Linked DNA regions of Homo sapiens: regions 2 and 3 are each reported to be linked to region 1. The links are microRNA targets in miRTarBase. Many come from high-throughput screens and were not tested one by one. Region 1 holds a microRNA gene; each other region holds the end of a gene's coding sequence.
Evidence for each region. The annotated mature microRNA hsa-miR-1287-5p reads UGCUGGAUCAGUGGUUCGAGUC and lies in region 1 at 5,024-5,045, opposite strand. An mRNA with a match to its seed (bases 2 to 7 or 8) in the 3' UTR can be bound and repressed. Matches are read on the target gene's strand: a 7mer-m8 pairs with bases 2 to 8, a 7mer-A1 pairs with bases 2 to 7 and ends in A, and an 8mer does both.

Region 2: the mRNA of GNG12 is a reported target of hsa-miR-1287-5p. Seed matches in the 3' UTR shown: 7mer-A1 at 4,473-4,479.
Region 3: the mRNA of ROBO1 is a reported target of hsa-miR-1287-5p. Seed matches in the 3' UTR shown: 7mer-A1 at 5,811-5,817.

Annotation. Positions count from the first base shown.
Region 1 is chr10:98,390,248-98,397,447 of GRCh38, forward strand. MIR1287 (microRNA 1287) reads right to left here and starts at 5,060; the gene lies at 4,971-5,060. PYROXD2 (pyridine nucleotide-disulphide oxidoreductase domain 2) reads right to left here. Exons shown (of 16, transcript NM_032709.3): 6 at 7,098-7,200; 7 at 5,144-5,205; 8 at 4,949-5,046; 9 at 2,695-2,836; 10 at 2,185-2,319; 11 at 763-835; 12 at 351-507. RefSeq lists an enhancer at 1,261-1,310.
Region 2 is chr1:67,698,948-67,706,147 of GRCh38, reverse strand. It overlaps GNG12 (G protein subunit gamma 12), which reads left to right. Exons shown (of 4, transcript NM_018841.6): 4 at 572-4,673. The coding sequence ends at 697. Among named protein-coding and RNA genes, the nearest start is that of GADD45A, 17 kb to the right of the region's middle.
Region 3 is chr3:78,592,850-78,600,049 of GRCh38, forward strand. ROBO1 (roundabout guidance receptor 1) reads right to left here. Exons shown (of 31, transcript NM_002941.4): 31 at 4,390-6,078. The coding sequence ends at 6,064. Among named protein-coding and RNA genes, the nearest start is that of LINC02077, 550 kb to the left of the region's middle.

The DNA of each region.
Region 1 (7,200 bases):
GACTCGGTGAGTGCGTGCTCTCTGACGGGCTCTGAATGAGAGAACTTCCTTTGCTCTCCCAGAACACATTTTCTCCTCTTCTTCCCCAGCCCCAGCACTTTCCTGGGCAGTGCTCTGCCCCTCTGCCCCTTCTGCTAACCTGAGCCGCTCTTCACCCCTTACCTGCCCTCATCCTCAGATTTTTCACCTGGGATGCACTTCCTGTCCTTAGGAGTATGGATTTTGGCAGATCCTAAGTCACTGTGAAGGTTGAACACCAGGCCTGATCCCTGCTGTGGGTGGCATGGACAGCCCCGCCTCCCAGGCCCATGTGGAAGAACATCAGGGAACATAAAGTCCAGGGCCCCTACCTGTGGGAAGGCAGGCCATCCATGGCATCTTCAAAGGCCTGATGAAGGAGGAGGGTGTCTTCACAGTTCAGGTGGATGGAGCATTGGTGATGGGGCAGCGGCTGGCCCCTGGGAGCATTGGGGGCCGCCAGGAAGCTGGGCAGCCTGTCTACGGCCACTGAGGGACCAAAGAGGAGGGTCAGGTCTTAGCCCCACAAGGTCCTCCCTCTACAGCCAGCACCCTGCTACCCTCAGTGGCGGACGGGAGTAGGAAAGTATGAGCAAGTGTTTCACCTTCTGACCAGGCTGCAGGGGGACACAGGCTGGAGGTCCGGGAATGGAGATGATGACTGAGTTCAGCTGCCCCCAGCCTGGAGGTTTCTCACTCAGATGGGTCAAAGGAGACAGTGCTGCAATGTGGTGTGCCTCTTACCATTGATCTTGGTGACAGGCGACCGGGTGTCCAGCTGAGAGATTCTCTCCAGGAACTCCTCAGGAAGCCACTCCTGGAAGGAGAAGGCTCCATGAAAGGCCTCAGATGTCCAAGGCCCCAAGGAAGCTGCCTTCTTTCTTTGCTCAGGAAGATCCCTCAGTCGCTCCCTCCGGAAATCCTCTTCATCCTTCAAAGCTCAGCCAAAACCACCTCCCCTGTGAAGCCTTCCTAGATCCCCTCCCACTCAGCTCTAACCACTTCCTCCTCCGCGCTTGGCCAGCAGTTCTGACTGTGAAATAGTCCGCACCTCTCCCTGCTTGCAAAGGGGTCAGTGGTTTGCAGGCCTCTTTTCACTACTGGTCTGTAAGCTCTTGGAAGCCTCGACGATCTCAGAATTGCCTTAACAAGTTTCTTTTTACTGATGTTTGTTGAATTTTAGTAATGGAATCACTCAGAAAAAGTAGTGCTTTGCCCCTAAGAATTGCCCCCAAGAATGGCTAGGAGCTTCATGTGCGTATACATGTTATCATATCTTTTGAGCACAGGGTAAGTCAATTGCAAAAACTGCCCCCAAAGCTCACCCCTCCCTGTTTGCACACCCACTTCCGTGTAACCTTGCAGTGCTCTCACACTCTGACTCTAGGCTTGGCCATGAGACTTGGTCTGGCCAATGCTAGCAAACAGGATGCAAAGAGATCAAACCATGTGATGCTTGCATGCATGCTTGAGCTTGCCTGCTTTTGCCCTTTGCCAGACCTTGAGAACATGCCTGGACTACCGTGCTGGAGGAGGACAGACACATGGAGCATAGCCGAGTCCCCCACCCGGTCATCCCAGCAGAAACGGTCCTGGACCAGCCACCACCAGCCAGCTCCCAGGCACATGAAGGAGTCCCGCCAAGATCAGCAGCCGGCAAGCTGACCCACAGCCAACTGCAGACGCATGAGCAAGCCTTAAGCAGCTGAAATCCACCAAGATCAACTGAAGTCTCCAGTTCTGGGTGCCAGTATTTCTTGTTGTATGCCCAGAAGTATTGTGGCTCTTTGTTAATTGATTAATTAATAATCATGGATAATATAACAGATCATTGACAAAGACAATGGAATTAGAGCGGTGAGAGGGGAGAAATCAGGAAAGTAGGAAAGTTGTGGAAATAACTCTAGATTGAAAGTCAGACCTGGGTTCTAGCTCTGGCTCTGCCAATGGCCGGAATCTTGGTCACTTCACCTCTCTGGCCCCTTCTCCCCACCTGTGAGGCTTCTTCCCCGTTTGCTACCTGCCCTTACCCCCCTGTTTCCCAAATGCAGAGACTTGGCTTTTGCATCTCACACCCTGATGCAATCCTGGCTCCCTCAATCCCCACGATTTCTAACCCCTGTTTTGGCAGACATCTAAGCTCCACCCTCCTGCCCACAGCCTCACCTGTGGCGTCAGCTTCAGGAAGGTGATCTGCGGTGATGTGTTGGACAGCACCATTTTGCTTCTCACCTCTGTGCCATCTTCCAGCACAACTCCTTGAACACAGCCTTCACTGTTCACCTGCACCTTCGCCACTGTCTAGAGCCCACCAGAACAAGGCCCCAGAAACCGCAGGAAGGGAAATCCATGTTAGATCTTCCGGGATTTCCATGGTCTGTGCTGCTCCTAGGCATTCACAACTTCTTCATCCCAAACCCATCCCACCAAGTTCTGCAGCTTCTCCATGAAGCCTCAGCTTCTCCATGAAACACTCAGTCTCAGTTCAGTGACCAGGGAATTCCAAGGGGGTGGTTAGCCACTAACAGACTGCATGACCTTAATCTCTTGATTCTGCAACCCATCCCCTCATGGCCCCTCTGTTCATTGGTAAAACAAGGGACCTTCCAAATCTGAGACTTTGTTCTGTCCTGGGATCCTTACTAATAATTGGGGTGGGGTAGAGGGGCCGTTCACCTTTTCAGTGAAGATGCTTGCTCCATGTGTGGTGGCTGAGCTTGCGATCGCATCAGAGAGGGCACCCATGCCCCCCTGGACGTAGCCCCAGGCCCCCTGCATTCCCTCCAGGCCCCCCATCACATGGTGCAGCAGCACATACCTGTGGACAGACCATCCGACTCAGATCCTGGAGGTGGGATCTCATCTCCCCAGAGTTCCAGGTGCAACTATTCCTTTCCATCTTGATCTTCAGCCCTTCCCTGCCACCATCCAGCCCTCTCCCAGCAGCCTTCAATGAGCTCAAGTTCTTGTAAGAGCCCTTTGCCTTCTCTACACCCTCTCCCTAACAAGTGTGTCTATGTGCATAGCTTATTACCACAAAGAAGGCAACGATGCCCAAACCTGCAGCTCCAGCCCTCTCCTGAGCTCCAGCTCCGGTGTCCAGCTACCCACAGATATCTCCCTTTGGACCCTTTCTTGGCAGCATCTTAAACCCACCACCTTTTCCCCATTCTCCAGCTGCTTCCCCTTCAATCTTTCCCATCCCAGTGAACGGCACCTTTCAACAGGAGGTTCTGTTTCCGACAGAAATCCAGGTGTCAGCCTTGACCGCTACCATCCTTCCCCATCTACATCCACAAAGCAACACCAACTCAGCCTCCAAAGGGCTTTCAAGGTCATCCCACCTCTCAGCCTCTCTTCTCTTCCTTATGCTGCTGCAGTAGTGCCCCTCATTGGACCCCCTCTCCCACACTTTCTCTCCTGCAGGTCTTGTCCACATATATCCTGGAGCCCTATCTTAAAGCCCAGCTCTGCTCCTGCCACTCACTTATCACCATTCCAAGCCTCCCCGGCTTGGCACTGCTCTTAGGATAATGGCCAGTCTTCTAGCAGGCACTCCAGCCTCATCCCTCATCCTGTCCCCCTATCCATATCCCATCCTCCTAACTAACAGAACCTCTCGATTTCCTGGGTGGATCACACGTTCTCTCAACCCCAGCATTTCCCCTGCTGTTCTGTCGGCCTGAAGCCCCTCCCTCCCTCATCTTATGTTTTGTTAACTCCTCTTTGTCCTTTGGGTCTCAGATCAAACACCTCTTCCATGTAGAGGCTTCTCTGACCCTAGACCAGGCTGTGTCCCGGCTGCTCCTCCTAGCATCACACTCACGCCACTTCATCATCATCACTCGCTCTGTGTCTCTCACCCATCAGGACATCTGCTCCGCTCACTACCGTATCCCCAGCACCTAGCACAGGCAAGCGCTCATCCATATTTGTTGGAAGAATTAATGATGGAACAGATTACTTAAAGATCACAAACGGAGCACTGGTTAAGCCTCCCAGGGATCCGAAGAGAAAAGGGCAGGAGGCCCCAGCTGGAAGATCCAGATTGGCTGGTAGATCACAGCTTGGCCAATGTGTGGCAACTGCTGCCAAGCCCCCATCTCCATCGCCCTGGGGGAATTTGGGGCCGGCTTAATATGTGTTGAAAAACCACTTCCGAGGGTGTGCTCATCCCTTGAGAGAAAAGCCACGTCGACGCCTTCTAGCTTCTAGCTTCTAGCTGTATCTTCTGGTGCACTGGAAACGGCCCAACCCTTGGCTGCATTCTCCATCCCAACACACACACACACACACACACACACACACACACACAGCCTTCCATTCCTGCTTCTGCGGGGGCTCATTAAGTCAGACCACACTGCAGGCTTTGCTGTGTCTGACTGCCACCTCTCGGATTGGGCTGTCAGCACAAACCCTCACTCATAAAGAAAAAGGCAGCTTCCTGTCCATCCTGAGGTGTCTGTGTGAGTGTGTACCAGAGCCCAGGGGAAGGAACAGTGAGAGAGAAGGGAGAATGGGCGTTTGCGGGAGTGGAGAGGTAGAAGAGGGAAGGGAAGAGGAGAGAAAAGAAGATATTAATTTTGAGCTATCAAGCGGGAGGTGGGAGAGAGGCTTTTCTTAGTGAAGCAGTAGGGCACAGTCACTAAAAAGGAAGATTTTGGGGAGTCAGACACCTCAAGCTGGAAATCAGCCTTGCCACTTACCAGCTGAGTGGCTTTGGGCAAGACACTCCCTTCTCTGAACCGCAGTTCTCAGATGTTGCTCTGAGGGTTAAGTGGATCGTGTGTGATGTGCCTGGCTCGGTTCCTGGCTCACTGGGTGAGCTCTGTTAAGTGGCAGCTGTTGTTGCTGCCACTGCCACTGTTGTCCTCACTCCTGTTGGGGAACATGCCCCACTCCTGTGTCCCACCTCACCCCCCTCACTCACCCACTCCCCGGAGTGTGGGGACTTGTCATGGCTCCAATCACTGCATCTGTGGCTAGAGTGGCTTTTAAAGGCTCAGACTCGAACCACTGATCCAGCACCTGGACAGCACAACAGCAGAGAGAAGGGCTTAGGAGCCTGGATGGGAGGAGGGCCCTCTCACTGCCTGGTCGGGCCTGAGGCTGGGGAACCACTCACCTTGGTAATGGGAGCTGTGAGGACCTCATAATATCGGGGAAGCTGGGCTCCCAGGATGCGGCCTACAAGAGAAGATCCACAAAACAGAAGTTGAAACAGGTGACAGGGAAACCCTCCGACCTGGCCTGGGGGATAAAAGCATGGAGGATGCTGAGACTTCCTGCCAGGAGGTGGTATAGCACAGCCAATGCAGGGACAGATCCAGCTTGAGTCCTGGCCACACCTCTCACTAGCTGCAGTGCCTGGGACACATTTTTAACATCTCTGAACCTGCTTCTTTACCTGTAAAATGGGAATCCTATTTTACACCCCAAGGGCTACGGTGAGGATTAAATGAGCTAGGTAAAGCATTTGCAAGTTCATGGGTACTTAATACATTTAAGCAGTTAGCATTATTTTTGGAAAATTTTAAACTTGTACCTTATTCCCTTATTTCGAACTCTGGAAGGCCCATATCCTGGGAGAAGGCTGGCATGGCTGATCCATTCCTATGACCCTGATTCAGACCATTTCAGAAAGAAACTAGGCTTTAAGGCCTTCAGGGTAGAAATCATGGTCTCTAGCCTTACAGCCCCTGGGCCTAGCTTAGTGTCTGACACATAGTAGTTGCTCAATAAATGTTTTTTGCCTGTTTTTCACACAGAGCTCCTTGGACTGGTTATCTGAGAGAGAGGCAGTGTCTACTTTTTGCATTTGTAATAGATTCCACTGGCTCCATACTCTTTGCAATGTATAAGTCTGCAGTGCCTCTCAACCCACCACAACTTGGTTAACCTGCCTGGCTCCTTGGCTCTGGGCTCATCCATGTGATTTGGTCAGCCAGTGGAATGTTTGCCGATGTGACACAAACCCAGAACTGAAACAGGCCTGTACATTGGGGCATGCCCTCTGTGCTTGTGCCACTGATGTGAAAAGTCCACACCCAGGTCAGCATGTGCTTCTACAAGGAGGACGAGAGGTACCTGGAGCAGAGCTGCCTCCACTGAGCTGCTGCAGACACAAACACATGCCTGAGACCAAACCAGATCAGCTGAGCCAGCTGGAATCAGCTGAACCACGAAGACATGTGGGAAACAAATGATTTTTTTTCTAGGATATAGAGGTTAAACTGGTCTGTATACCCTCAAGGAGGGTAGAAAATAATAGCACACTTAATGAGCCTTCCATTCGCATACTCATGGCAGACATTACTAATTGATCACAGAACTTCTCCTTGCTGAGCCCAAATCTAGCATTCTTCCTGTATGGGGGCAGCTCTTCAAATCTCTTGGCCCCTATATCTTATTCTAGCCACAGCCATGATGCTGAGCTCCAAGCAGGCTTTGATCAGCTTCACACAGGCAACTCCACAGCAACTCACTTCAGTCCTGAAAAGTGAGCCTCTCTACTTCTTCCCTAGGGCTTCTCTGGCACCAGGGCAGGGCACTCATGGGAACCTACTTGGCACCCACAGATGCACAGCCCAGAAGTGTGGGAGTCAATGCCCTGTGAGGCAACCCTTGGCCAATGGGAGATAGAACCCAATGGATAAATATTTCCCTTTCCATCTCCCGAGAAGGTTCCTCAAATGCTTTTCATAAGGCTTCCCAGAGGGCCCACACAGGTCCAGCATCTTGTCACCCACAGTGCTGGCTAGTGCGATCACACACTCTGGTATTGACTCTTTCTCTGTCCACTTTCACCCCAACTTTCTGCTATTTTTGTGTCTTGGGGTCACCCTTCCAAATGAACTACCCACGCATAAGCCTTGGTCTCAGGCTCTATTTTAAAGGCATATCAGCCTAAGATGCTCTCAACAAAGTGCTCCAGGCTGCCCCTAATTGATCGCAGCATGTTAACTGATCCCAGCTGGCAGGCTGCCATGGAGGTTCAGGCTTGTGTCTAGGCATCGAGACAATGGGCTCACCTCCTTGAAGGTCACTCATCATGCCCTGGTGCCTGCACTTGGACTTACCTGCCTTCAGCAGGGGCTTGAGGGTGGAGAGCGACCTCATCCTTTGCAGCAAGGAGCCATGCTGGAAGGCCGCCATGTCCACGGGGGCCGCATCCAGCAGAGG
Region 2 (7,200 bases), not on the chromosome of region 1:
CCGTTTACCAGGATTCACCAGTTTTTAACATTTGACCACATGTACTTGCTTGCACTGTCTCTCTCCCTCCTTCTGTCTGTACACACATACACACAAAACATATATAATGTCTTCTTTAAACCCTTGAAAGTTATTTGCAGTTCAGGATTATCTAATAAGAATACCTCACACACAGTCCATTTTTGAAGAATCCAGGCCACTTATTTTGCAGAATCACCCTCACTTCGGGTGTGATCGTTCGCTGATTGGACTCCAGTTCAATGTTGGACAGGAATGCTAGCTCATTAGCTGGCGGTGTGTCCTCAGCACTCCCATGAAGGGATACATGGTGCCAGTTTGTCTGACCATTGTTAAGTTGCTTGGTTAAGAAAGACCTTACCTGCCAAATTGCACCATTTTAAAGGTACCATTTCCTTTTTATACCTGACAAGAATCTGAGAGTGATGCTTTGAGACTCTGATTATCTTGTTCAAATCAGTCTTCCATTCAATAGCCTAGCATTCAAATACGCTCTGAAAGTGTGCAAGTAAAATATTTTCTTTCTTGTTTGTTTGATTTATCTCCATGTCAGGTTTCGAAGGCATCAGCGGACCTCATGTCCTACTGTGAGGAACATGCCAGGAGTGACCCTTTGCTGATAGGAATACCAACTTCAGAAAACCCTTTCAAGGATAAAAAAACTTGCATCATCTTATAGTGGAATAGAGAAACAGCTCCTCGCCTCTTCCCAACAACGCAAATTATGAGCAGCTCCTTGAAGAGATTTACCTTCAGCTTATTTGGTAACCACTGCTAATAACTAAAATGTTCTCAGCTTGGAATAATGGACTCTGAAGTCTCTATTTTCCAAGTTGTCCTTTCTCTTAAAATACCCTTTACTGATTTAATACAGAATAACAATCTTATTTTCCACTTGGTAACTATGGCTTTATGTTGGGTTACTGTTTAAGGAAAGTTGATCTGGGCCTTTTTAAAAACATAATTATATACTTTAGAAATACAAGGGATTCCGATATGTCAGGACCTAAATGGCCTAAGCACCTGTCAAATTAAAATTCCAAAATTCATTGAAATCCTAAAGCCTTGATATTATATTCTTTATAAGGCGTGTGCCAGCCTGTATAGTATATAAGAGAGAGGGGTGTTTGTGTGTATATATATATGCCTTTGTGTATACACTTATCAAAGCTATTTTCTTATGAAAACGTCCCTCTCTCCATACCATCAGTTTCTCAGTTCCAGAAGTTATACCTTTATTTTGAGCTGTGTATAGGTAGAATAAAAAATTCCTTTCATATCGTTATTGTACAAAAAGTAAAGAGTATCCTAAAGATTGTATTCATTGTAATCAAGTAATGCAATCATCTCTCCTCTCTTGAAATCTTGCTGGACCTCTTAGGCTACAATAAACTGTACCAAACTAAACTGACAGTCCTTCGATAATATGAAACATTAATTTACAAGGACCCGTTAGGGCTTCAATGATGCTGAGTCTGGAAAAGGGGAGGAGACCCTTGGGAGGACTCCAGGCAGCTGTGCTCCCAGGGCTCATGTTCTCTACTGGATTAGGGATAGGCACCTCTGAAATCTCCACCCTGATGATTGGAATGAAACGGAGTGAACATGAGCCCAGCTGAGAGAGGAGCAGGAATGTGTGAAAAACAGCTGCTCTCCTTGTCCCAGCTTTGTGATTGAGCCCTCTGTCTTGCTCTCTCTGCCTTCCCTGTGTCTTTCTTCTCTTACCAGAGCATCTGTTTGCAGAGGTAACATTACCTTCCCCAGCCACAGGTATGTGGAATACGGTGAGGAAAAAAAAAATTAAAAAAAAAATGCAAGCTGTCAGGATGCTTAAGCTCTTTTCAGACATCTGCAGTTTCATCCCTACCTTGTTCACATACCATCCAAGAGGCACATAGGCTACCCAAGAGAGCCTTGGATTCAGTGGTACACTCCTTGGGCCCAAGGGCTTTAGCAGCTGGATATGGGGTTCCTTGATTTTCCTCTGGGCCCAAATATAGCCCTCACACTCTTGGAATTTCCAGGTATGGGGGTAGCCCCAAAAGGAGGAATCTCCTATGGCCAATAAGGTATCTTGACTTTATCAAAGTAGAAGAGAGGGTCACTTCGGAGTCAAATCATACACTAGGCCTTTGATGCTTTAATTCTTCTTCAGTTCATTAAAAGTAACTACTAAGGAAAGGTTAAAAACTTCCCCTCAAAAAGGAATCAACCCCAGGAAGTAATTATTTACAACGATTTTCCCAAATTTTGTACAATCTGTCCTGGAAAGCAAACCCCTTTTAAAATCTAATGTCTGGGCTTTGAGTATTAGCTCATTTAGGGTGGACAAATGCATTACTGTTTTCAAACTGCTCACATTTATTCAGTATTTCTCCAAGTTGCTATCTACTCAGCCTTATGAATGCCCCTCGCTTTTCTAAGGCCATGTGAAAATCACGGCACTGCCCTTAGCCTTGTGTCATCTGCTTTTTCGTTCTGCGATATGCCCAGTTCCCAAATCAATTATAGGTACCTGTTTAGGAGAGAGGAAGATTTTACCTCTCAAAGGGTGAGATTTGAAATTTACACTAAAAAGACAACTTTACATTTAATGCTTCACTTAATGAGACATTCTTTTTTTTATAAGTCTATTTTTCTACTCAGTTTCAGAACACTAATCTGATTTTCACTCTGATTTTTAACGTTTCTTTAAATATTTATAATGTAGCTTCTTTCAAAATATTTTCATGAAAAATTACTTTTATTATACCATTATGTGCATGTTATTGGTAGCAGGCATAGTTTATTATTTAGTACTGAAACATGCTCTTTTACCTAACAGTAAACAAGTATGTTTTGATATATATCTGTTAATATGCTTATAGTGGTAAGAAATGGACTTGAGGTCCCAGGAGATTTCATTTTATTCACCCTGGTCAGATACAATAAAGGCTATGAGTATAAATACATAACTTCCTAACCAGGTGTAGGGCATGTTCATGAATATCAAATCTTTTGATGCTGGACCCAAGAGAGGAAAAGTTGTAGCTAAATGTTGATTTACTTATAACTAGACGTCTATGTGAGAAAATATATGTATACATATATATGATATGCAGAAGTCACTTTTTTTATCAGGCTTTATTCTCCTTACAAAGCCACAGTTTAACTGTCTGCAACAGTTGGTTTATGTTAATGATAGACAAATACCCAGTGTTTGTTACTTTTTCCAACTACCACTGTAATGATAATCTTTCTCACGTATATACATGCAACTTCTTGGCTTCATTTCCATGAAGCTGTTTCAATATATTCAGTATACTTTGTCCTTAATGCTGCTTCTGTTAACAGTGATCTCTTTCTTTTTTTCATTCTTATATCTTCATTAGTTCATCATAAATCTGTCCAGTTGAGGCCTCAGGACCACGGCATGATTTCATGACTCCGAAGTATTTTACAGAAACATTTTTTAAATAAGGGAAATATTTTATATACCAGATGGTTCACAAGTGATGGCTCATAGCTAGTTTTTTTTTTTCTTCTAAAAAATGTCAGGTTTTTAAAATCATTTACCTTATTAAAATGAAAAGTGCCATACTTAACTTTTAAAGGAAAGACCTGACTTGCTTTTTCTCTATTTAGACTGTTTTTGTACTTTACTAATCTTTAAACTATCAGGAAAAAAACCAAAACTTTATACCAATGATTTAGTAATTTTGAGGCATAGGGTAGCTTACGTAGTGGAGGATGTGCCAAATATTCTCTTCAAATGCCACCTTCTCAATTTATAACTAAAATAGTGTTATCTGACTAATTCCTCTGAATTTTGATGTAAGATCTATATAGGCCCCCAAAATGATCGTAGTACATGCCAGTCATTTCTCAGTGAAATAAATACAATACCAGAGTACATTATGGGTTTTATTGCTTTCTTTTATGGTAGACCTGTTAATGGGGAAAAAATACATCAAATCAAATAGAATCTTATATCTGTATGTTAAAATAGAGCACTTACCTGAAGTCAGTGGCCTGGATCATAGCCCTGGATCATTTCCCAGTCTGTCCTGTGCTGTGTGACCTTGGACAAGGCGCTTCATCTCTCTGGGCCTCTATTTCTCCATTTGTAAAACAAGTGGCTGCAGTAGATGATGGCTGAGAGCCCTTCCTGTTCCCAGATGCCTTGGTCCAAAGACCCCACCCCTCTGCTGGTCCTGCCAACGTGTTGGTGCTATAAGCTGCTTCAGATATAAAATTGGTTTATCTATAATGTTTGTTCATTTAATAGCTTCTAAAAGGCCTTTTTGTTATACAGTGCTTTTTTTCTAGTTTTATGGACTTGGTTACTGTAATAATGTCTTGTTTTTAGCCATGTAACTACAAACAGATATTCTCTTGATGTCTTAGTAAATTTGCATTTGATATATCATTGATGAGATTTTGTTGTTATGTAATATTCTTTGGCTACGCATCTGTCCAGCATCTTATTAACCATAATACTGTGATCATTATTTGGAAATATGTCCTATGGAAAGAATAAAAGCATGTACTTCACAGCTAGCATGTTCACAGATTTGAAAGAAGTTTCATTAAAAGCACCATTGCTTTCTGTACTGCGTCAGTGCCTCATTGTATCATCCTACTTGTGTTTTGCTCAATAAATGAATAAAAGACCATTTCTCTTCCCCTTTCCCTTCCTTCACTCAGTTAACATTTTCTGAGCACCTCCTGAGAGCAAGCTGCTGAGAGTCAGGCTCCCATGACACCCAAATGAATAAGACTTACACCAGCCCATGTCACAGTCTGAGCAAGGAGGATGGGAATGACAGATATGTAAACTAATCATCGTAGTATCATGTGGCAAGTGCTATAACTCAGGTGAACACAGAGTGCTGTGAGAGCCCAGAGGAAAGAGGGACTAGCTCCACATCAACAAAGACCTCTAAAAAGGCTTCCAAGGGTGGTGATGTTTGGGCTGAGTGAGAGAAGAACAGTATGCGTTGGAATGAGGTCCTGGGAGGAGATGAGAGGAGGAGAAAAGAGGACTGGAAGCCAGTGTGCAGAAGACCCCCGATCCCGCCCTCCTATCCTGCTTGCCTATCCTGAAACCAACAGGGGAGCTAGAGAGGCTGCTGAGGAGTGACGTAATGACTCTGACCTGTGGAGGGCTGTTTCCCATCCTGAGACTAGCTGAGGTAGTGGAAACTGATAACAAATGGAAAGGTCATTAGATGGTGGTGACTCATATTCACTATGTGTTTGCTGAAGGTGCCCTGCCTCCTCTTCTGCCCCTTCCCCCAGGGCTGGGATTCCCACAGAGATGAGGGGAGGGCAAAATCATCAAAGAACAAGGGCGGGAGGCAGCCAACAAGCCCCAGGCTATGAACCGGACACGCTGCAGAGATGGCCCCTGCTTCTGAGAGCCAGCACTCCACACTTACAAAAGGTAGGGGCAAAAGACAGTCCCTGGGCCCTTTCTAGTAAAAGACTGAAGGATTTAGATACATCGGTTTTGAAAAAGAGGCAACAACTAACAAGCACTTTTTACTGCTTCTGACCAAATTACAAAGTTCTTGTAACTCTCAGTGGAGGAGAGTTGGGGATGATGGATGGGATTGGGTAGGGGTGAGTTTTTAAAAGATGGGGGAAGGGAAGGTAATGAAGCTGGAAGAGGCAGATGAGATGTATACTTAGCCTTAACATGGACAAGAAACCCAGGCCTGCGGGTAGTGATTGGAACTCAGTGTGGAGATGCATGTCATGGGGCTTTCCACCTCTTCTGGATATGTGCCATGATCAGTTTTTCCCTGGCACGAGGGTCAGTTACACATAAACACATGGATATTCCCTCTAAACCTTTTTATTTGGGGCTCTATAATCCTTGTTTGGGGCTAGGCGACCGTCTTTTGAGTATTTGTCCCTCATTCCCTATGCCAGGATTATAATCTGTTGGCTTAAAACTCTGACCATGGCCGGGCGCGGTGGCTCATGCCTGTAATCCCAGCACTTTGGGAGGCCAAGACGGGCGGATCACGAGGTCAGGAGATCAAGACCATCCTGGCTAACACGGTGAAACCCCATCTCTACTAAAAATACAAAAAATTAGCCAGCCTGGTGGCGGGCGCGCCTGTAGTCCCAGTTACTCGGGAGGCTGAGGCAGGAGAATGGCATGAACCCGGGAGGCGGAGCTTGCAGTGAGCCGAGATCGCGCCACTGCACTCCAGCCTGGGCGACAGAGTGAGACTCCGTCTCAAAAAAAAAAAAAAAAAAAAAAAAAACCTCTGACCATCTTTGTGGAGCCTGGTCCCACCGTCAGTTCTAGCTGTCTTTGCACAGCCTGGCATGGCTAGGGCCTTGTGCTTGTTTTCAGAGCGTGACCATATTTGCTACTGTACCCCTTTACCACTGTGAGTAGCAAATAACTTTTGCCTTCAGATGAGCCCTCTGTTACCCTAATTACTTTCTCTTTATCTGAGTCATTTAAATCCATGAAGGTCGTTTAACTTTAGGCCAGCCCTGGGCGACGTGCAGTTAGTCAAAGGAACCCTCACCTCAATTGCCCATTTTTTTCAAAAACTTTTTCTGCCCTGGAGGAAAATGCAGTCCAAGTAAATTTATGCTAATGTGCAAATGAATTAATATATTGGCCTGTGGAGGACCACTGGCACTGTCAAATACAACTCTGGAGAGAGTGATACTTAGCACAAAGAAATGGAAGTTCATAGTAAAGTTTAGGCATCACTGAGAATTAATTGTACATATGAAGCATTCCTATACCCTTTAAATCCTCCTAGACAATCTATTGAATGATGAAAGCACTTAACTGAAATGGTTGACATCCATAATGGAAGATGCCAGGTTTGTAAGTCCAAGAGATTTGCAGCTGAGACATCTATGTGCACAATGATACTTTTTATTTTTATTTATTTATTTATTTATTTATTTATTTATTTATTTATTTATTTTTGAGACCGAGTCTCCCTCTGTCGCCCAAGCTGGAATGCAGTGGTGTGATCTCGGCTCACTGCAACCTCCCCCTCCCAAATTCAAGCAATTCTCCTGCCTCAGCCTCCTAAGTAGCTGGGATTACAGGCATGTGCCACCACGCCCGGCTAATTTTTTTGTATTTTTAGTAGAGACAGGGTTTCGCCATGTTAGTGAGACTGGTCTCAATCCCTTAACCTCAGGATATCCACCCACCTT
Region 3 (7,200 bases), not on the chromosome of region 1:
AAGAGCTCAGAGTTTTTCCCAAACAGAAAGAGAATTTCTGAAAGAGGGAAGATTAACTTAGATGTGGAGCTAGTGATTTATGTCAAAGATTTGAATTTTAAAAAGAAGTACCTGTATTAGGCAGTTCAAGCTTCTGTAACGAAGTCCCATAGACAGGGTGGCTTGTAAACAAGAGAAATGTATTTCTCACAGTTTTGGAAGCTGGAAGTCCAAGATCACAGGGCTAGCATAGCTGACTTCTGGTGATAGCCCTCTTCTGGGTTGCAGACTGCTGACATTTCCTTGTTTCATTGCAGGAAGAAGAAAGAGCTCTCTAGGGTTGCTTTTGTTTGTTTGTTTGTTTGTTGTTGTTGTTGTTTTTTATAAGAGCACTAATCCTATTCATGAAGCCTCCACCATCAAAACCTAGTTACCTCCCAAACGCCCCACATCCTAAAACCATCACATTGGGGGTTAGAATTTTAACATATGAATTCAGGGAGGACATAAACATTCAGTCCCTAACAGTATCCAATCTATGTAAATATAATGAGTCCAATATAAGGCAATGGGATTGTATACATGTTACTTTTTAATGTAATTTTCATTGAATTTAAAAACTTTGTGTGTCACTGTGAAATGCTACCAATTTTTGTCATGATATAATGTCTCAACGATAGTTTTGCAAAACACATAAATTGGTTACACCATGCTCAACTTTGCTTGAAACTTTTTTTCACTTTATTTTGAGGAATTTCATAATTTTACTGGCCTTCAATAACATTGTATATGTGTGTGTGCATATATGTGTGTGTTGGAAGGCACAACTTGAATTACTGTGGATATTTTACTTTCTGTGGTACTGTAAAGCTTGTTGCTTTGCCAGAAAATGCGTAACTGGTTATTCCTCTAAGGATCCAAGTCACATCTCAATGGTGTTTCTCCATGCTTTTTGCTCGTTTTGTTTCAATGCTAATACTGTAAAAAAATTTTCAAAATATGTTAAATGTCAATTAAATTCAACACCTATAGTACCAGAAATTGATAACTGGTAAAAACTCCACCAATGTGAAAGTAATTTGAATACCTATAACTAACTTCATATGTGTACATTATGAAGGAAAATTTATCTTAAATCTGAAAAATGGTAAATTAATGATTGCTTGATTTTTATTACCATACTAAAACATTTTCCAATAATCCTGCCAGCAATAGATGCCTTTGAGGTTTTGCTAGGGCCAAAAGTTCCCTTTGATCCCAGACTCACCTCATTTTGGCACCTTCCCAACTCAACTACCTGCCATGTGCATGTCTTCTTTCTGCCTTAGGGTCTTCCATTCACACTTGGTCTGCTCACTAGTACCGGGAAGTGAAATCCCCTGCCCCGCCTGCAGCCTGAAACCTTCAGCTAATGGGGAATAATTTTGGGCTACTGTCCTTCAGTGAAAAGTTCTGTTAGGCATTCTGTGTGCTCCTGGGAAGAGCCGGTAGAGTACCTGGTAGAGGCACCTTCACCTACTTTGAAGGATCTATATTGAATTTTATTCCCCTCACACTCCCACTTCCTGGGATTCTATCCCAAATAAACTGTTTGCATCCAAGTCTTTGTCGCAGGCTCTGCTTCTGGGGAAACATGAACAAGAGTAAGTCACTGTCGAACCTTTATCTGATTCTCCTGAGTGAATGTAAATTACCAAGGTATATTTTCGACAGATAATTTCCAAATGATAAAGGTGGCCGACTTCAGACTTCCTGTAGTCTTGAAGGTTAATGGTTATTTAACCTAAAGAAAAAGATAGATGTCATGACTCTCTAGCCCAGTAAAAATTAGTATCATGTTTGTATTGCCCTGTAGAAAGTTTACTAACTCGGCTGGGTGCGGTGGCTCACGCTTGTAATCATCTCAGCACTTTGGGAGGCTGATGTGGGTGGATTGCCTGAGGTCAGGAGTTCAAGACTAGCCAGGCCAACATGGTGAAACCCCGTATCTACTAAAAATACAAAAATTAGCCGGGCATGGTGGCGGGCACCTATAATCCCAGCGGCTCAGAAGGCTGAGACAGGGAGAATTGCTTGAACCCGGGAGGTGGGGGGTTGCAGTGAACCAAGATCATGCCATTGCACTCCAGCCTGGGTGACAGAGTGAGACTGTCTTAAAGAAAAAAAAAAAAGAAAAAGAAAAAAAAGAAAGTTTACTAACTCAGCCATCATAGTTAAGTTTCTTTCACAGCTGCCATTTGACTGCTCTTTGTCTTTCTGCTGTTTACTGTATTAACGAGGTAAACAAAAGTTTGATGCATGCTCTGTTTCTTTGAGGCTTATGTTTTTAAACAGCGAGCAATGAAAAGGTGAAAGTGATTGTGAGACACTAATGCCTATAAGATTCATTTCAGTTTCAGCTGTACTACGATGAAACTTATCTTTGAGTTGTTAGGGTGGTAGCTACCAAACTATTTTTAACATAAATAGGATTGCCTCCAAAATGCAAATTATTAGGCTCTTTTCTTCAAAACTGCAGAAGTTGCTCTCACCCCTTCCCTCAACCAACACACAGTCCAAATGCAGCAAGCAGTTTAGGGGCCATTGTAGTATCTTGTGAGACCCCAAGGAAGTCTCAAGTCCTTAGAGCCCCAGCATGGCACAGAAGAGCATATGGAACTCTCCTTCCTTACTCTTTACACCCACCCTACATTGAAGGACTTAGAAGTATCAGGAGAGGATCAATGGATAATAAGAGGCATTAAGGTTGGGAGAAGAGGATACAGAGTAAAGTTCTGACAAAAATGAAGATCATTTAATGAAACTTGGCCAACAGCAATCCCCAAAGCCGCCTGCTTCCTGACCACCCACACATTCTACACATGGGGACAGCTCTGAAATTCAGATGTCACTGTGTGCAAAGAAGAAATCCAGACTATATATGAAATAATCAAAAAAGCCAGGTATCGTCGATTTCACCTGGAATTAAGATTATATCTTCTGCCACTAGGCAGAATAGCAGCCCAAAATAAACAACGAGTTTAATTGTTGAGAACTCCTGTCTGTACCCACGAATTGTGAAATGTGTGCTGCAGACACCATAACACCACCCGCTGTGTGGCCCTCGAATTCAAGAGCAACAAAACAAACAAAAACACCAATTATTTATTCCACAATTAGGAATTTCACAGTGAATTTTACTCACCGGAAATGAAACCACCCTCATCCTGGTACCACACTTATTCTTTGACTTTCGTGCAAATACTCAGAAACAAACTAGGTATGAAAAGCAGGGATTGCATGTGTAATGAATTTCAGTCCATAAATATAACAATATCTTGTATCATTGATGGAGTTTACAGAGTCCATATCATACACATTAACTCACTGAATCATGACAACGGCTCCATGAGGTAGGTATTATTGAATTTACAGGTGAAGTACCTGAGACTTAGAGGTTAAGTAACATCTCCGAGGAAACACAGCTGTGACAAAACTGCGACTCAAACCCAGGTCCTCTGATATACAGAATCGGTATGTATTATCACATATTATAAATAAAGAGAGAGACTAACTTATATTTATAGTCAACTCACCAGGGGTAAGAGAGAAATTACGTCACTACACATGTCCCTCTAATTTTTCCTTAAAGTAGCTTTTAGAAATTGACTTCTTGACCTGTGGACCTGTTCATCTTTAAGTAGATGCTGGTGATTACTTCATTTTTATAAAATTAAATTTCAGATTAAACCCCTTTTTTTCACTGTTTTCCCTCATATTTTCAAATTCTGATAAACACAAAATTTAGGTAGAAGAGCAATATATATGTGAAAGGGAAAAAACCTACATCAGATTCTGTTGCTCTTGGAACTTCCAAGACATGGTGCCCATATTGTTCATCTAAAGTTGAATACCTGGATACACTAACTAACTTTAATAATGTATAACCTGGTATATGATAGGTATTGTTAAAATTTTACGTGAATTCGTAACAAGAAAGCAGATAGTTACTGATAAGCATTTCAGAGTTATATAATTAATTTTCTTGCTGACAGAACATAGGTGGCTCAAACTTTACAAATCACATTTATCTAGTTGAATCCCAATTATTTTAGAAATAGATGAAATAGATTAACTGAAACTCAGATACACATACATAAACAAAAATAATATACCCTTAATATTAAAGAAGACTTAGTCTCTGATCCAATTATTCACTTCTAGGTCTTGACTGATCTTACATTTTTAATTTCAGAGGACTTAGGTAAAATTTTGCTTACAGTAAAGCCTGGTTATTCATACAACTAATTGAGAATTTTCACTCATCTGATAATACAGGGGTGAAATGTTAAGACAGAACGACTTTGTGATTAAATGGAATAAATTTGATCAGCACACAATGAAAAAAGAAATCAACACAAGAAAGAAAGATGTATTTGAGAACATTTTTAATAAATAATGTGACAAAATTACTTTTCTGATTATTGGATTTTCAGTATGCAAAATTATGGCTAAAAATAAGGGGCTTCTTACATGAACATAATGAAAACATTAATCACATGGATTGTTCCCTTAGTACTGCACGCCTTTTCTATGGAACTTTTTCAAATTATCTAAATGAACAAGTTTGGTTTTGGTGAACACCAGCCTTTTTTTTTGTGGTTCAGTTTTGTTTGGCTTTGTTTTCCACTGGGGTCAGACCTGATACTTATCTATCTATGAATAAATGTACATTTTTTTCTTCAAATAGCACCAATTATAAAATCAATGATATTCATAAAATGACAAAAAAGGATCATAGAAATCTACTAGTCAGAGGGCATCATTTGTCAATTGAAAGCAAGTAATGCCTCTATTAGAGATTTTAAGGAAATCTTGTAGGTTTCGACATTGGCCACAACAAACTTAAACCTCTTTTTTTCTTTAAGTCCAGGAAAAGTAAGAACCATTTGGTTCATGGCCCACAATAAAGTATGCATGTTACTTCACCATCTGTCATTATTCAAATATTCCAAATACAAACATAGAGCATTAACAAAACAGGTTAAAAACGCTTCTCAACATTTTTTTTTTCAATAAGACAAAAAAGGTTAATAGTTACAATGGTTTACAAATAAAGTTTAGTGATTGTGCTTTTAAAACCAAAAAAAAAAAAAAAAAGAGAGAGAGATTAAAAACAGTGCATTACAAAAACAAAAATCAAACTTCCTTAAGTGGCACTTCTGAAAGTTGAACTGACACTACCAGAAGAAATTTAGGCCAGTTAAGACAGGGATGTTCTTACTCAATTGGTCATTAAAAACATCCACTTGTTTGTAATACGTATTTATAATTACTTTTTGATGATTGAAAAATAGAACAAGGTTTTACTAGGTTTACTTATGACAATGACTAGACAACCAGAGATCCAACTGGCTTAGCCCTACTTATCCAAAAGTACATTTCCAATAAGAATATACTTCAATGATTGAAATGAAGCCAAAATAAAATACCACCAGGGTTTGCAAAGAGTAAATATTTACAATGTTTCTACCCCATTCGAATTGTTTGTGGTTCTGCATTTGCTATATTTTTAGTTTCTTCCAGCAAAGGGTAGTATGAAAAACTGATTTTGAAATCATGTTAAAATGAAATATGTTTTAATTTGCATTAGCAGTTGGCTATAGAAAGATTATACTTTGAGAGCCCTTGTGAGGTTGAATATCAACTTTCTATATTTGATCAATATCTTGCTATAAATTAGCTTGGCATATAAGCAGTGCAATGCCATATCTCAGCGGCAAAATGCAAAAGAACAGTTTTGTTCCCTCTTGCTGGCTGATGACTGAAGCAAGAAGTCAAAGCACTTTGCTTGCTGGAAGTAAGGTATAATGGTTTGCTCCAACAGCGAGGGGAATAGGAAGGCTCTTTGTAGGGTTAGGGATCAAACAACAACAATAAAAACCCAATAAAGTTTTTAAAATGATATCCCAATAAGAGGAATAAAAACGACAATTTGTACACTCTGATTGCACTGAACATTTTATCTGGCGTCATGTGTCATCTGACAGGAGGCATCTTGAGTGATGATTTTCACATTAGATCTCATAAGCCTCTTGGTTGTCTTCAGCTTTCAGTTTCCTGTAAGAGATACGTTATTGTCACATTTGAAAATAAATCTTAAGAGGATTGTGTTATATTTATTTATATGCATTTATTATTATTATAATTTAATGTGTCTTTTCATTTATTCAATGGACTATGTTGGAAAGGGCTCATGTCAACTAATTCATTCATCAACCTTAATTGGTCTTCACAGCAAATTCAACAAGTACCAAACTGGGTTCTGCACAGTGCCCCGGTGTTGCGTGGTGGGACACAGGGCTCTGAGAAGCGGGAAGGAATGTGTTGAGTTATCTAATCCCCTCAGCCCCAAGTCAACATTACAACTCTGCTTTTGTTGGTTTTAAATACTGGAGTTAACAGTAAGGCCATTCTGTTCCCCCAAAAGGCTACTTCTATTTTAAAATAAACTAAGACCTGAAAAACAACTTCTCTGTTTGCAGGAGGAAAGTCTTTCTCATTCTAAACCTCAAAATCGAAATACATTGAGCTTTATAGGACTTTCAATTAGACATAATGGCCTATACCTTTTCAGCTTCTACTATAAAAAGTTGTCATTTGACACGTATTTATCTACTTGAGTTTAACTATATTTATTAAAAAATTTTCCTCAACTTTTATTAAATTGAGAAAATACAATCTTTGAATGGGTGAGGGGAGAATTTATGATATGTCAAGGCTAACAAGAGAGTATATCTTTGACGTAAGAAGTTTCCTCCAACTGGGGAGGTCAGTGTCACAGACTAGGCATACACTTTCAGAAGTGTAAAGGTGAAGGACAGTTAGCCAAACCAGCCACATTACCCTGGTGCTGACTATGGCAACTTCCTCACTCACATCATATAACTCTGTCATCTTACTGGGTTTTTATAGCCTGCTACAATGCTATGAATTATAATAGCTCTAGATCAACAGCTCTTACTTCTTAACAATGTGTTTGCCATATATGTTTCTTATCTGAAAATCTGCAAATGAAGATAAACCCTAGCTAAACAAATAAACTGCCATTAACATTTAAAACTTTGGGACACATTTCAAGAAAATTCTCAAATTCTCAGAACTTCAGTTTCTGCCATCATAGACATTAGAGTACTGAAAAGTTTGCAATAAAACAGTAACATTTCTGTACACTGATGAAGG